2 separate regions of the Homo sapiens genome follow, and region 2 is linked to region 1. A link means that fine-mapping ties the variant in region 1 to the expression of a gene that starts in the linked region. Tissue or cell type: whole blood. Region 1 holds a variant in brackets; the other region holds the start of a gene. All regions are shown on one strand. Distances are between the middles of the regions.

Evidence for each region. PIP is the estimated chance that this variant, and not a neighbour inherited with it, causes the effect. A credible set is the group of variants that fine-mapping cannot tell apart.
Region 2: FRG1 starts here. The variant in region 1 is the best candidate, but not a certain one, in a credible set for the expression of FRG1 in whole blood (TOPMed, PIP 0.79).

What each region holds. Positions count from the first base shown.
Region 1 is chr4:189,971,714-189,979,821 of GRCh38, reverse strand. It overlaps the pseudogene MLLT10P2. Among named protein-coding and RNA genes, the nearest start is that of FRG1, 35 kb to the right of the region's middle. RefSeq lists a silencer at 4,426-4,596. The variant T/C (reference allele first, on the strand shown) is at 4,406.
Region 2 is chr4:189,937,016-189,945,123 of GRCh38, reverse strand. It overlaps FRG1 (FSHD region gene 1), which reads right to left and starts at 4,252. Exons shown (of 9, transcript NM_004477.3): 1 at 4,053-4,252; 2 at 1,852-1,922. The coding sequence starts at 4,114. FRG1-DT (FRG1 divergent transcript) reads left to right here and starts at 4,391. Exons shown (of 4, transcript NR_149039.1): 1 at 4,391-5,465; 2 at 7,791-7,927. RefSeq lists an enhancer at 3,447-3,946.

The DNA of each region.
Region 1 (8,108 bases):
GCCAGGCAGGGCCTCTGCAAGTGAGATGCAGATCCAGCCTGTTGGCCACTTAGCAGCTGCTTGGCTGGCTGCAGATCACCTGACCTCTGCTCACCAGTAAATGGGGGTTGCAGTTAGCACTTACCTTCTGGGGTTTCTGCAGCTTGAAGGGGCAGCACACACCATGTGCTGAGAAAGCGCCGAACTCAGGCAAGCTTTTCCAAGAGCACCACATCAGATTAACATCCAACCTGTACAGAATACCATCAAATCTCCCCACCCCTCATTCCAATGGAAGAAAAGGGAATCTCTGTCCTAGGGGGAGCAAGCACAGGCCTATCTATGCAGTCGGCACATGGCACAGGTGGGGAAAAGGCCCTTGGATACGTGCTGGTTTCACCAACCATCTGTAGGTTGGGTTTGGCCTGGACCCCTGCACCCCAGGAGGCCGGCAGCCCCCCTGCACCCCAGGAGGCCGGCAGCCCCCCTGCACGGTACAGGACTGGGAGGTGGGTGGGAGGGCTGAGCTTTGAGGGAAGCCATTATTTGGCCTCATGGGAAGTGGTGCAGGTGGTTGTTGGTGGCTCAGTTTTGCAGGACCTGGGTGATCACCCAAGGAGTGAAAATTGTCTTTTTATGAGAAATTGCCAAAATTGATGCAAGCTCATCAGTTGAAAAGGTGAGTAATGCTGACAGTTGGCTTCACGTGCCCCTTCCCCACAAGTAACTGGTGTTCAGAGGTGGATTTGGTTCCTTCCCAGCCTTTCCCGTTTGCATGTAGCTGTGTGCATGTACTTTGTGTACACACAAACATGTTCCCTGGAGGGGTTACTTTTATTTTTTTATTTGGGGGGATAACTAGTGAGGCAGCCTGACACTTGCTTATCTTGTCTTTTAAGTGTGGAGTCCTCTATGGAGTGGGCATCAGGTACTTACTAGCTGGCCTCTGCCAGCTGTTTGGCTGCCCCCGTTTCTGCCCTTCACAGACATGCTGGCCACCTGGTGTGACATGCAGTGGCCTTGTTTGCAGCTAGTGTGATGAGACAAGTGGATCAGGTACATTGTAAACTGAAAAAGCACACAACATGCAGAGGGAAAGGATAAATGACCATGAGGGTACTGCTCTGCTGAAGTCCACATCACATGACTGAGATGACATTTTTTCACCTAACATTTGGGCCCTGAGAAAAGGCATTTGTTTTACTTTTTATTTATAACAGAATTAGAAGAAATACTACCAGGCTTTCTTTTCCATTATCCTCAACTCCCACTTAAACCCCTCAAGTTTACCTACCTCAGAGAGAAAGTGGAGCTCGCCTGATTGAGAGCCTGAAATTATTTGAGCCAGGTCACTGTGTAAAGGTCAGACTGCTTCCATCTCCTTGTGCATCACTTGCGCAGCTCAGATATTTCATGGCTCCCTGTATACAGGTAGCTGTGTTACCCTCCTAGCCGCTTTCTTGGTTTGATACATGCCTGGGAGCATGTGGGAGCAGTTAAGGTCTGGGCTCATGGGAGGACAGTTCTGCCCACCCCAGCTCATCTCTCCAGCTCAGCCTGCATACCTGCCTTCCTCCATCTGATTCCAGAGTAGGGGATGGGAGGTCTCACACTGACCTCAAGTTTATGTGACTTTTTCCATCTCTGCTTTCCCAGACAGCCCTTGCTGTGGGACTTGTAAGGAGATTTGTGAAGTCAGTATCTACTTTTCTTGTGTGGGTGTTTATAAATTATTCCCCTGGAGGGGAATAAATGTTAGAGGTACTCCAAACCCCTAACATGTAAACATCTAAGCCTGGCCCTTTTTTGGTGGTAAAATATACACAACATAAAACTTACCATTTTAACCATGTTTAAATGTACAGTTCTGTGGCATCCAGTATATTCAGTGTTGTCCAACCATCTAGTTTATCTAATTTATCCATATCTACAACTTCTTTATCATCCTAAAATCAAACACCATTCCCATGAAGAAGTCACTGAATAGAAGACTGATGTATTTGACTCCATAAAAATTGAAACTTTGTGTGAGAGAAAAATGCCTCTAAGTCAAAAGTCAACAGACTGGGGAAATAGATCTGCCACATACATGACAGACAAAAAGCTAATTTGGGATATATACATACATATGGGTATATGTAAATATCCATTTTAAACACCATTCAAAAAATACCATCGTTTCCCATTGAATAGTGTTGACTCCTGTGTTAAAAATCATGACCATATTTTTTGGTTCTTTATTTCTATCGCATTGGTCTTTGTCTCTGTCTCTATGCTGGTACAAGTTTTGGGTACTGAAGCATTGCAGTAAGTTTGAAACCAGGAGGTGTTAGTCCTCTAACTTTGTTAGTTTTTAAGATTGATTTGGCTACTTGGGATTTTTTGAGATTTCATCTGAATTTTAGAATAGGTTTTTCTATTTTTGCAAATATTGGAATTTTTATAGTGATTTTATTGAATCTGTAGATGACTATAGATAACAATGGCATCTTGACAAGGTTTTGTCTTCCAGTCCATAAACACATGATGTCTTTTCATTTATTTGTCATCTTTAATACGTTCATGCCATGTTTATAGTTTTTGCTGTACAGGTTTTTCATTTTCTTGGTTAAGTGGGTTTCTAAGTATTTTATTCTTTTGATGCTATCATACATGATACTGTTGTCTTGATTTCTTCTTCAGATAGTTTATTGTTATTGTAGAAATACAACTGATTTTTGTGTATTGATTTTGTATCCTGCAGCTTTGCTGAATTTTGTTTATTGTATCTGACAGTTTATTTCACAGAAACCAAAAGATTTTTAATATATAAGGTTATGTCATCTGCAAACAGATAATTTTACTTTTAAAAAAATTGGAATATCTTTTATTCTTTTACTCATGTTTTAACTAACTAGAATCCTCAGTACTATATTAAACAGAAGTAGTAAAAGCAGGCATCCTTGTTTTTGCTCTTAGGGTAAAAGCTTTCAGTCTTTCACCACATTAGCTGTGTTTTTGTTTTTTGTATGACATTATGTTAAAGTGTTTTCTTTCTTTTTATAGTTTATTAAGTACATTTTATCATGAATGTGGGTTAAATTTTGACAAATGCTTTTTCTTCTTTGATTAAAATGTGATCACATGAGGCTTTTTTCCTTCTTTATGTTAATGTGATATTACGCTGATTTTCATGTGTTGGAATATACTTTTATTTCAGGAGTCAATTATACTCATTCATAGTGTATAATCCTTTTAGTGTACTGCTAAGTTTGAGTTGCTGGTATTTTGTTGAGGATTTTTGCATCAGCATTTGTAAGGGATGTTTGTTTGTAGTTTTCTTATGGTGCCTTTGTCTGGCTTGGTGTCAAGGTAATACTGGCCTCATAGAATAAGTTAGAAAACATTACCTCCTCTTCAACGTTTTGAAAAAGTTTGAGAAAAACTGGTGTTAATTCTGCTTTAAACGTTGGGTAGAATTCAACAGTGAAGCCATCTGGTCCAGGCTTTTCTTTGTTGCTGGGTTTTTGATTACTTATGCCATCTTCCTGCTGAATCTCCTTGCTGAATAGGTTTATTCAACTTTTCTGATTCAGTCTTAGTAGGTTTTTTGTTTCTAGGAATTTGTTCATTTTATTTAGGTTATTCAATTTTTTAGTGTATAGTTCCTTATGGTACTCTCCTACATCCTTTTTTTACTCCAAAAATTTGTTAGTAATGTACCCATTTTTCTTCTGAGTTTCGTAATTTGAGTATTCCCTTTTTTTCTTAGTCAATCTAGATAAAATTTTTGTCAGTTTTGATCTTTTCCAGAGAATAAACTTGGTTTTGTTGATTTTTGATATTGCTTTTCTGTTCTCTATTTCACTTATTTCCACTGCTATCTTTATCATTTTTAAAATTTTGCTAGCTTTTAGTTGTCCCTCTTTTTCCCTCTGTTTTTAGTTCCTTAGGAGTAAAGTTGTTGATTCAGTATCTTATGTTTTATAATCATTTATAGCTATAAATTTTTCCCTCATGGTACTGTTTTTGATGTATCTCTTAACTTCTGGTATTTCATCCAGTTTTCTCTCCATCCTTTATTTGATACATGAACAAATTACATGAGTGAAGAACACCACTGTGTCTTCTTAAATAACTTTTCAACTTCAGTAAGTCATGCAAGGATCAAATGTGAGAGAAATAGAGAACCTCAGGATCAACTCAAGTATTTGGAAAAAAGTACTGAAAAATGAGGTGGGGTGGTTTCCAAACTGACCTGCTCAGCATCGAAGGGATTCTTGTTTCTTAAGGAAGCCATGCAGTTTTATCAGCTTAAAAGTGAGTGGTTGGTAAAAATTTTTTTCTTTTAAACTTACTTTTTGAAACTTCTTATTTGTGGACTGTGGTTTGTTAGAATAGTGATTATTTTGTTTTTATGAGATGTTTATTGTATTTTTATCTTTTT[T/C]TTTTAAGGCAGAGTCTTGCTCTGTCACCCAGGCTGGAGTACAGTGGCTCGATCTCAGTTCACTGCAACCTCCACCTCCCAGGTTCAAGCGATTCTCCTGCCTCAGCCTCCCGAGTAGCTGGGATTACAGGCGCCCACCACCACACCCAGCTAATTTTTGTATTTTCAGTAGAGATGAGGTTTCACCCTGTCGGCCAGGCTGGTCTCAAACTCCTGACCTCAAGTGATCCACCCGCCTCAGTCTCCCAAAGTGCTGGGATTACAGGTGTGAGCCACTGTGCCCAGCGTGTTTCTTGTGTTTGATGATGAAAATCTGTTATTGACAGTAAGAGGATGGGGGCTCAGGTTAGCAACAGGGTGTTAGAAAAGCAGCAGTAAAATTTTGGTTCTCAAAACATTTGATGTCTTATTCCTTTTTTTGAACATGGGTTTTGCTAAAAAAAAAAAAGGCCAGCCATTTTGAAACTTGATTTTATTGTCACGTTCTCATTTTGAAATTCATCTTATGGTTTGTATGAATTGGCAGCCGTCTGTGGGAAATTTCAGTTTTGCATATTTTCAGATTATTTTCATTTTTACATCAGATTTTGAACAGATGCTATACAAAAGTATTCATTTATTTATTCAACAAAATTTAGTGCTGGTTATGTTGCAAGCACTTAGTGAACTTCATGCTGTACGTGCCTCACATACTTTTGCGAATGTAATGGCAACATCAAAACCTTTGCCCTTATGCACCTTATAAACCTTTAATTTCAAGGCATATTGATGAGCGGGCATCTGCTATAACGTGCTTTCATGGTCATTTAATTCACCATTATTTGGGTATACCTTATATTGAAGCTGATTACTGAAAATTGGAAACTATTTAAACATATCTGTGTCTTGCCTTTTTCCTTAACATATGTAGATCAAGGAGTCACTGAGGATCAATTTTAGGGATAGTTATAAAAATCTTAACTTTGCGACTATAACTTTGTCCTCAATGTAATAACTGCAAAAAATAATTTACATTTCAAAGGCTTTAATCTTTGTGCTTTTTTGAAAAGGAGCCTTCACCGAGATTCTTTAAAAATTCTTGCTCTTACAGTAGAGCATTTTAAGCTCATGGATATGGTCCTCTAATGGATCTGTACCCCCTCAGTTCTCTGGTTGTCGCCCTCCTGTGGTGAAAATTAAAGCTTATTTTCATTTCACGTCTAGGATGCAGTACGTTCTTATTGGGGAAAAAATGATGTTGCTGAGAAACAAGTGCCTTCAGTATCACTGTGTGTCACTTAATAAATATGACTAATATCTACTTTTACCAATGGCTGCAATTTGATGCTTAAACAGCCATCTTTAAATTATACTTTTTCTTTGGTTAAAGAAAAATAATTATAATAGATATTAATTATTTTTACCTAATTTTCTTATGTGGACTGCCATTCTTAGAACTAAAACTTTCAGATGTTTATATTACAAGTACAATTATTATTTATTTTTATTATTAGTGTCATCTTTTTTTTTCTGTAGCCAAATGTAATCAACTCCCTTCCTTTCACTTCCTTTTTTGAATCAGAATATTACACTTATACAAGCAAGAGCAACAGCTCTATATCCAGATCACTGCAGTGCTTAGAAGATACAACAGCACAATTTACAGATCCAAATTTCCAGGAAGTCTCTGCACACACCTCTAGTACAAAAGATGCTTCAGAGACTAGAGGGTCAGAGGGCAAAGAGAGGAAATATTCAACTCCCAGCTCAGGTCAAAAGGGAAGAAAGCCTGGTGTTAAAAGAAATCCAAGAAGGACTGTGTCTGCAACTCGCCCCTTTCTGTAAAGTATTCATGGTGTTTTAGTTAAAATGTTTGTTCTTATGATGGTCAAATAATATTAATAGTTATGCTTTGTAAAAGAATTTATTCTTATAATTAATGGATCGTTCTAAATTATTATACGTTTAGTTGCTATAGTAAGATGATGTCAAAGATTTGTTGCCTGTTAAATGTTTCTGGGATCTTTGCTTTATTTTCATATTATGATCTGTGCTTCCAAAGTTGAGTGGTAATTTTATTGTTTATACAAATGTAAAATAAAGCTTAAGTTTGGGGAGAAAAATAAAAGCTAGAGTTTTCCTTTCAGCTCTATAGAACAGTCATTCATTTCTATAAATGTTCTTTATATAGATTTCCTAGTTCCACATTTAAAAATAAATATGGGGATCTACACAGGTCTCAGTAAATAATAGTTGTTGATTAATAATGCATTTATTATAAAGCTTGAAGTTTAAAGTAGAATTTTGCTCAGCCTACATATCTTTTATGGTCAGGCTGCTATAATTATGTAATACCCAGTTAAATTTCAATTTCAGATAAACAAAGAATAAGTTTTAGTATAAGCATATCCCAAATATTGCATGGGGTATACTTACACTGAAAAAAGTATTTGTTTATCTGAAATTTAAAATTAACTGGGCATGCTATATTTTCTGTGGCAACCCTGTTTTATAGAGAGCAGAGTAAGTCAGCTAAATTTTAGAATACTTTAACCTGGTGTTCTAGGTCTTTCCTTTTTGTAATTATTATTATTATCTGGAGTCAGGGTCATGCTCCATCACTTAGGCTGGAGTGCAGTGGCACAATCACAGTGCCCTGCAGCCTTGAGCTTCTGGGCTCAAGTGATTCTGGCACCTCTGCCTTTGCCTCCCAAGTAGCTAGTACCACAGGTACGTGGGCCCAGCTAATTTTTTTTTTTTTTTTTTTTTTTCCCCGTAGAGACAGGGTCTCAGGGTGGTCTGGAACTCCTGGGCTCAAGCAATCCTCCCACCTCTGCCTTCACTTCCCAAATAGCTGAGACCACCGGCACATACCACCACCATACCCAGCTTATTTTTTATCAGGTTGGTGCAAGAGGAATTGTGGGTTTTGCCATTGAAAGTAATGGCAAAACCTGCAATTACTTTTTGTATCACCCTAATAATTTTTTGTGGAGACAAGGTCTTGTCCTGTTGTCTAGGCTGGTTTCCAAGTCCTGGACTCGAGTGACCCTCCTGCCTTGGCCTCTCAAAGTGCTGGGATTACAGATGGGAGCCACTGTACCAAGCTACTTTGTATAATTTTTAACATAAATGTAAATGTTTTGAGAACTAGAAATGTTAAAACCCTTGGAGGAAAATGTAAAGTATACAATAGAAAAAAAAATACAAAAAATTATCAATTTTCAGAGGAACAAAAAATATCCAGTTTTTACAATCTTCAGGATTCAATCCCATTATATCAAACATACCAAGAAACATATTCAAAGAAAAAGGCAATCAATCGAGACTGACCTCGAGACGACCGAGATGTTGGAATTAGTATGGATTTTTTAAAGTAGTTATTATAATTCTTACTAAAATCAAAACCCCAAAAACTCTTATAATAAATGGATAGAAAATCACAGCAGAGAAGAAGAAACTACAGTAATAACAAAGCCTCAAGTGGAAATTCTAGAAGTGAAAAATTTTTCAAAATTAAAAAATAATAGTTGTGTTCAGGAGCAGCTTGGAGGTGGTAAAGAGTCAACCTTAAAATACAATTGAAATTATTCAATCTGAAAAATGTGAGCAGTCACGGGTTGAGGTGAGGGAGTTTTCCTTTGGTTAGTGCTTTTAGGTAATCTTGGTTTTTTTTTTTTTTTTATTGATCATTCTTGGGTGTTTCTCGCAGAGGGGGATTTGG
Region 2 (8,108 bases), 35 kb after region 1:
CAAAGTCACTATACAAAAATCAATTGTATATCTACATACTGACAGCAAACAACTGGAAAATCAAATTCAAAGGTTCTATTGACAGTAATGTAAAATTATAAAATACTTAAGAATAAATGTTTAAACAGGCATGCAAGATGGCTACATTGAAAATTATGAAATATTGAGGCCCAATATTAAGATGTTGATCTCCCCCAAATGATCTGGACTCAATACAGTTCTCGAGAAAATCCAACAAACTTCACTGCAGAAATTAATAAATTAACAGTTAATAAGTACAAAGTCGGAGGACTCACACTACCTGATCTCAAGACTTCATGAAATTATAGCAATCAAGAGAAATATACCAACAGAAAAACAGACAAACGTATCGATAGAACAGAGTCCAGAAACAGACCAATACATAGAAAGTTAATTGATTTTTTATGAAGATACCAAAGTGGATTAATGGAAAAAGGAAACACCAGTGGTGCTGGCACAACTGGCTATCAAGATGTTTAAAAAAAAAAAGTAAATCTTGAAACCGAACTCACAACATCATGCCAAAATTTAATTTGAGATGAATGACAGATTTAATGTAAAAACTAAAACTATGATGCCTCTAAAAGACAATGTAGAATATTTTCCTGACTTTGGGGTAAGCAAAGATCTCTTAGATCAAAGACATAAGACAGTAACCATAAAAGAAAAAAAAAATAAACTGAGCTTTATAAAAATTAAAAGCTTCTGACCATCCTGGCTAACATGGTGAAACCCTGTTGCTACTAAAAACACAAAAAATTAGCCGGGTGTGGTGGCAGGCACCTGCACTCCCAGCTACTCGGGAGGCTGAGGCAGCAGAATGGCATGAACCCGGGAGGTGGAGCTTGCAGTGAACCGAGATCGCATCACTGCATTCCAGCTTGGGAGACAGAGTGAGAATTTGTCTCAAAAAAAAGCTGCTCATCCAAAAACCACCATTAAGAAACTGAAAAGGTAAAACTCAGACTGGGAGAAAAGACTGATAACACCATCAACTCTTGGCAAGGATGTAACTGGAGCACTAATTCATTCTTGGTAGGAGGGTAAAATGGCACAACCACTTTAGAAAACTTTTGGCATTTTCTTATATAGTTAAACATTCACCTATCCTTTGACACAGCAATTCCACATCTACATATCTACCCTAGATATTTACCCTAATTTTAGAATTGTTGATTTGCCATTTTGAAAGCAATGATTCTTCCAGAACATTAGCTTTATACCATTCCATATTTTATATATTAAGTTACCATAATTTATGAAGATTCAAAATGCAACTTGCCAAGTTTTAAAAGAGAAAAAAATATGTATGGAAAAGAACTAAACGGAAAACAGGCTGGTTAAGTGTGTTTAGGTCAGTTTATTTCTAGTATCATTTACAGGCTACCCTGATGTTGTATTTAAAATTTTCATTCATTTCAGAGTTCACAAAATAATGATTTTTCCTGTGAAGATACTTCCTTTAAGAGACAACCGACTTCTACAATTAAAATGCATACATGTGCAAAGAAAATAACTTGTAAAAGATATTTGGTTGAATAACATTTACATTAGGCCTTTAAAATTATGTATTAGAATCTCTGGCTATTAAGCAGTCTAATGGTGCCTACTAAGTCAGAGAGTTATAATTTTTCTCTCCTGATAATGAAGTAAAGGCATCAGTAGCATCTACTGTGTTAAAGAATAAATGGAATTTATAACTGTAGGTAATATTTAAGCACTTTAAGACAAATATGAATACATCATAAATTTCTAACTAGGAAAACACTTTCAAGGAGATCTCAAGAAACATTAACTTTTTTCAGAATAGAGCACTGAAAACTGACTCACCAACAATATCAAGCTGGGTTTCTTCATCTTCTTCTCTTTTTCTTTTCTTATCTTTGCTCTTTTTCTTCTTACTACAGGACATAATTTATATAGACGAGTTTAGGTATATTGATTTGTACGATAAATATTGTAAGATTGAAACTTGAAAGTCTTTTAAGCTGTTTCATTTATAAATTATTGATTTAGGAAGACTTACATTGATATGCCCTCTTAAATACAGTACTGAGAAGTTGCTTCAGGCTTTGCACATATTACGTTAGAGTTCAAAGCAGATTGTAGAGCCACACTGCCAGATTTTAAATCCTGATTCTTTCACTTCTTAGCTCCGTGATTTTTGGAAAAGGTACTGAATCTCTCTGAGTCAGTTTCCCCACTTAAAAAATTAGGATAGTAACTTAACCTAACTCTTAAGGCTATTGTGAGGATTAAGAGGTAATATGTACCTTCACACATTCCTGGTGGAAATGTAAAATGGTGCAGCATCTACAGGAAACAGTTTGGGGTTCCTCAAAAAGTTAAAGTTACCACATGACCCAGCAATTTTACTCCTAAGTATGTATACCCAAGGGAAATGAAAACATACACCCACAAAAATACTTACATAAGAATATTCACACTAGCATTAGTCACAATAGCCAAAAAGGGGAAACAACCCAAATGTTCATCAGTTGATGAATGGATGAACAAAATGATACATCCATACAATGGAATACTATGCAGCCATAAAAAGGAACAGGCGCTACAACAATGATGAACCTCAATAATGTTATAAGTGAAAGGAGCCAGATACAAAAGGCCACATGTTGCATGATTTCTTAGGAAATATTCAGAATAGGCGATTTCACATAGAGAGCGGATTAGTGGTTGCCAAGGACTAGGAGAGGGGGAGGATGGGATGTGACTGCTTTAATGGGTAGGGGGAGATTTCCTTCTGAGATGATGAAAATGCTGAGCAACTAGACAGTGGTGAACCTCTTGAATATATACTAAAAACCCCTGACTGTACAAAAGGGTGAATTTTATAATTATGAATTATATCTCAATAAAAAAATAAAAAACCAAGAGTGATTTGAAAAAAAGTTAATGTGCAAAGTGCCTACAACAATTTCTTGGCACATTGACAGTGCTATATGAGCATTAATTATGATTATTACGATGATCTTAAGACACCCGTGTCTGCATTTTCATTATAAAGTTTTCAGAAGATAACTCTCCTCTCCTCCCAGGAAATTCACAGAGTAAAAATCTCACATTCATTCAGGATAAACCTGCCATTTATTCTGGCATCTTCATGAGGCCAGACTCCTCGAGAGGGTTCTCAAGGCCAGTGGCTTCAACTCACTCCTTGATACTTTCTATCTCGCCTAAAAATATCAAAACCTCTGTTTATCACGGAGACCAGGAGGAAATACTCGACATTTGTATGTACCTCGGGCAAATCTGCCAGTTAAAAAAGAAGCGGGGATATGAGTGCACAGGTATTTTTTCCTAAAAAGCTAATAAATTACCATTACGACCTCCTCCTCACATTTGGCTCAATTTATTTTCTGCATATATGTTCTCTCATTTAATCCTCACAGTCTTCTAAAAGTATAAAAAACGTCTGAAAGTATAAATGTGTAAACGGAGGTTCAGATATTTGATCTCTTAATGAGTAAATGGAAGTTCAGACATATTAACCAATTTGCCACAAATTACAAAACTAGTAAATGACAAGAGTGCAGGTTCGAGCCCATATCCCTAAAGCCCATATACACCTCAACCACTGTGTGATTCATCCTGGTTTCACTGTACATATTAGATTAGAAAAAATTAATAAGTTTTCTAGAAAGAAAAGAGACAATGGAGAAAATAATAATCCCTAATAAAGGAAATTATCATGAACTACGAGATCAGACTAATGCAGACCCCCCAGGCAGAGGCCTGGAGAGATGCCTCAGGGGACCCAAACTCGTGGGTACGGGGTCACGGGTCACCTGCCCGTCTATCCTGTTTCCAGGGTCGTCCGCGCGGGAGGCTGCCCCTCTCTGCACAGACGCCGGGAACCGCGGCCCGGCCTCCGTCCAGCCCGGACAGGGGCCAGGGCGAAGCCTGGGAGGCCACAAAGCCGGCTCTCCGCGCCACGGCTTCCACCGGAGTTGCGGGGGTGGAGTGCGTCCGAAAAGAACGGAGGAGGCTCCCGCCCAAGCTGCAGGACCCACCTCTTCGTCTTGGTTCCCTTGAGCACGAGCTTGGTAGACTTCACGTAGGAGTACTCGGCCATGGCTCCGGGAAACTTCTGCGCGGAGAGGCTGAGGCCGGTTCTGGACGAGTATGTGAGTCGGGGCAGCACAGGGGCGCGGAGAAACAGAAGCGGACGCGAAATAAACACTCCCTGACAGCCTACGTCTCTGTAGAACCCGCCTCCGTCTTCACCCAAACGCTGAATGGCTCAGAGTTCCACTTCCGGGTTTCTGCCGGGGAGCTACGGCGGCCGCAGAGGGCCAAAAGGCATCCGCGCGCAGCTGCTCCCTGGCGCCCTCTCAAGGAGCCCCTGAGGATTCGCGCCTCCCGGAAGGGAGAAAAGCCCGCCCGAGGCGCGGTGCTGACGGTGGCTGGGCTGCCGGGTGCGCTGTGGAACCGCCTCCTGCTAGAGCAGCGGGCTGGCGACGGTCCTCGCCGGGGCGGGAAGCGGCTCAGGCTGCCCTCGCTGGCCTGCGGCGGCGCGGCTGGAAGCGCGGGCCACTCGTGCGTGGGTCACTCAGGACTGCGCCTCGCGCGACTGTGTGTGCAGGAAACAAGCAGGAAATACCCTAAAAGAGAATGAAGCGCCATGTTGAGGGTCGCGGACGTCGCGAGTGCTGTGGGAATGTGGGCTGAGGTGGAGAGTTATGGTAGCCCGTGTTACAGGCTCAGGGGTCTGAAAGAAGCCTAATCGTGGAGGCGGCATCTGAGGAGGGTCTTGAAGGCTGGGCAGGCATTTGCCCGACAGAGATGGAGGAAGCTAGTCCTGTCTGATGGAGGAAACAGGGCGGAGGCGTGGAGGGAGCCGTGCAGCGCTGGTGTGAGGAGCAGCGAGCAGGCCAGGCCTGTAAAGCAGAGTGAGGGAACCAGGATAGAGAAGGCAAGTCGGGGTCCTGTGGTCGCTGAAGAATTTGAATGAAATCAGTAAACAGGTGAGAGGGATCCATCGCAAGAGCATGGGATGAAAGGAGGAGTAGTCCACGGTGATTCCTCTGCAGCGGTGGGTGTTATTAATCGCGTATGTGACACCAAAACCACCCCACTCAAGCTGTGGCTCTTTCCCTAAAGTAGAAAACCGAGACCAGTTGGGTTCCAAGCATCCACGAAGATCTTATTAAATTCGTGATCCCTGGTGGCACCATGGAGTCAGGATTGGCTCATCTCAAACCTGACTCAGAAACAAAACCGTCACAATGTGCAGAGATGAGCGTCCTTACCGCTATCAACGTATTTTCTGGTGTTTTCACAGTGCTGCGCTTCCTAATCCCCATTCCATGGCAATCCACATGCCATGATGCCCGGAGTCATTAACAAAGGAGACACACAGGGGCTCCTCACGTTGGCTTTCCAGGGTTTTGATGAAAATCTGTTTCCTCGTCTCATACAATGTGGTTAGTAATAGTATCATTTAGGGTTGAAGAATTAAATGGTACGAGTTATATAGGGTGCTTATTATAACCTACATGGAAAATGCCTAGGATATGTTAGCTATGCTCATCACCAACATCGTTATATGATGGTAATAATCAGATAGTCAGGAAGCCTGACACCAAGAAAATGGATACATGCTCTGAAGGAATGAATGTGGAGAGATCAGAAGGTCAAGAACAAAGTCGTACAATATGTCTACAGTAAAGGGATAGAGAAAAGAAAGGCTATAAAAGAAGGAATGAAACAGAGTTAAATTATAGAAATCAAAGCTAAGGAGAATTTCCAGAAAGGGTAGTATCATTTAATATCATAGAAGTTTAGGAGCCCAAGATGGAAAAAAGGCCTCTGGGTAACTGACATTGAGGCAGTCTTTGGGGAAGCTCCATTTCCGATAGAGAAGTAGACTGAAAGTCAGCTTGAAGCAGGGACTAGGTGAAGAAGCTGTTGGCTGGTCGCATGGGGAAATAAATAAGGGATGGCATATGCCGTATTTCTGGATTTCTTTCTTTCTTGCCCAGCCTCTATATATGCACAGAGTTTGGCGAAAACTTACAAAAAATAAAAATGAAACCAATTTCGTTTGTAGACCCAAATACAATGCTTTCTGTTAGAATCAAGATAAATTCATGCCTCTCCCTTCTATTCAAACCGTCAGTTTTGAAATTAAACATCAGCTTTTCTTCTTCATTAAAATCATTTTCAGCTCTTCCCATTGATGGTTTGGGGGAGTTGCATAAGCAGTCAGGTCTTGATGAGTAGAGGAGGAGGGAACAAACACTTTCAGCAAAGGCAGAATTCTGAAATTCTGCTCATATTTTTTTCCAGTAACTTTCCTATGTTTGTGAGGTTATTCAGTCATAAAGATCCTAGTGAAATGTTTTTCAAGCTTTACTAATCATAATCACTGTGGACATTTGTTTAAAATGTGTATTCCCAGGCCTCTCACCTGGTGATTCTGATTCAGGAGATCATGGATGGGACTCAGCATACATGTGTTTGACAAGTATCACAAGTGGTTCTTATGGTCAGGCAAATTTGGGAAACTAACCAGGAATTTATGTTTTTATGACTGGCAGCTAGAAAAGATTCCTAGAGTCTTTGCTTTTTGAAAATAAAATATTTCTTTTTTAAAAGGAAAATTGTATGACTAGATACAGCATTTATACATGTGATAAATGTACTATACTGTGTGCTTTTGTCATATTTACAGTTAAAGATGTGTAAGAACACTCTGAGAAAAATTGTATATTAAATGAAAAGAGGGGTAAGTCAGGGTGGGGGAGAAATGAGAAGGGTGTGCTTATTGTTGCTAAAAGTTAGAAAAGCCAGAATGATAGCATCTAAGGTTGCAAATAGCACACTGTAAGTTGAGGGAGCTTCACAATCATGTCTGAAGCCTTCTTTGATATGCTGAGTTGTAAACAGTGGCTTTGGACAAGATTTGAGGGAGAAACCAACTATGCTTTAAAGTGTTCATTTAAAAGTCTTTAATTAAAGGAAAGTCTTTGCATTTACTTGAGCTAATTTAACTTCAGGACTTTAAGAAATTACTAGCCCTTAACCTCTTAAAAATTGTCTTTCATTTCAAATGAAAGTTTAAGGTGGCCTTTATGTTCGATTGGTATACTTGTGCGAAGACTTAACAGCAAGGTACTGTACAATTCTAAATGTTTACTTCTTAATTTTGCTGGAAGAAATATACTACTCAATTGATTATTTTTAAAGCAAAGTAAAACAATTTATTTTGACAAGTGACACTGTATTTTCCTAGTTTTTTGGTGGCAAAGATTAGTCTTAACATCACTAATCATCAGAGAAATGCAAATCAAAACCAAAACGAGATACCATCCTACACCAGTCAGAATAGCTACTATTCAAAAATTGAAAAACAACAGATCTTGGGAGGCTGTGGAGAAAGGGGAACATTTACACATAATTGGTGCAAATGTAAATTAGTTCAGCCACTGTTCAAAGCGGTTTGGAAATTTCTCAAAGCATTTAAAATAGAATTACCATTCAAGCCAACAATTCCATTACTGGTATATAACCCAAAGAGAATCAGTTATTCTACCAAAAAGACATATGCACTTGCATGTTCATCGCAGCACTATTCACAATAGCAAAGACATGGAGTCAGCCTAGGTGCCCATCGACAGTGGATTGGATCAATAAAATGTGGTACATCTACACAGTATGATTAGGCCATTCTTGCATTGCTATGAAGAAATACCTGAGGCTGGGTAATTTATAAGGAAAAGAGATTTAATTGGCTCACATCTCTGCAGGCTGTACAGGAAGCATGGTGATGGCATCTGCATGGCGCCTGTGGAGGCCCCAGGGAGCTTTTACTCATGATGGAAGGCACAGAGGGAGTAGGCACATCACATGGTCCGAGGAGGAGCAAGAGAAAATGGGAGTGGGGGTAAGTACCACACACCCTTACACAACCAGATCTTGAAAGAATTCACTATCACAAGGACGGCATCAGGCCATGAGAGATCCATCCCCATGACCCTACCAGGCCCCACCTCCAACACTGAGGATTACATTTCATCATGAGATTTATAGGGGCCACCTTCCAAACCATTTCATACACCACGGAA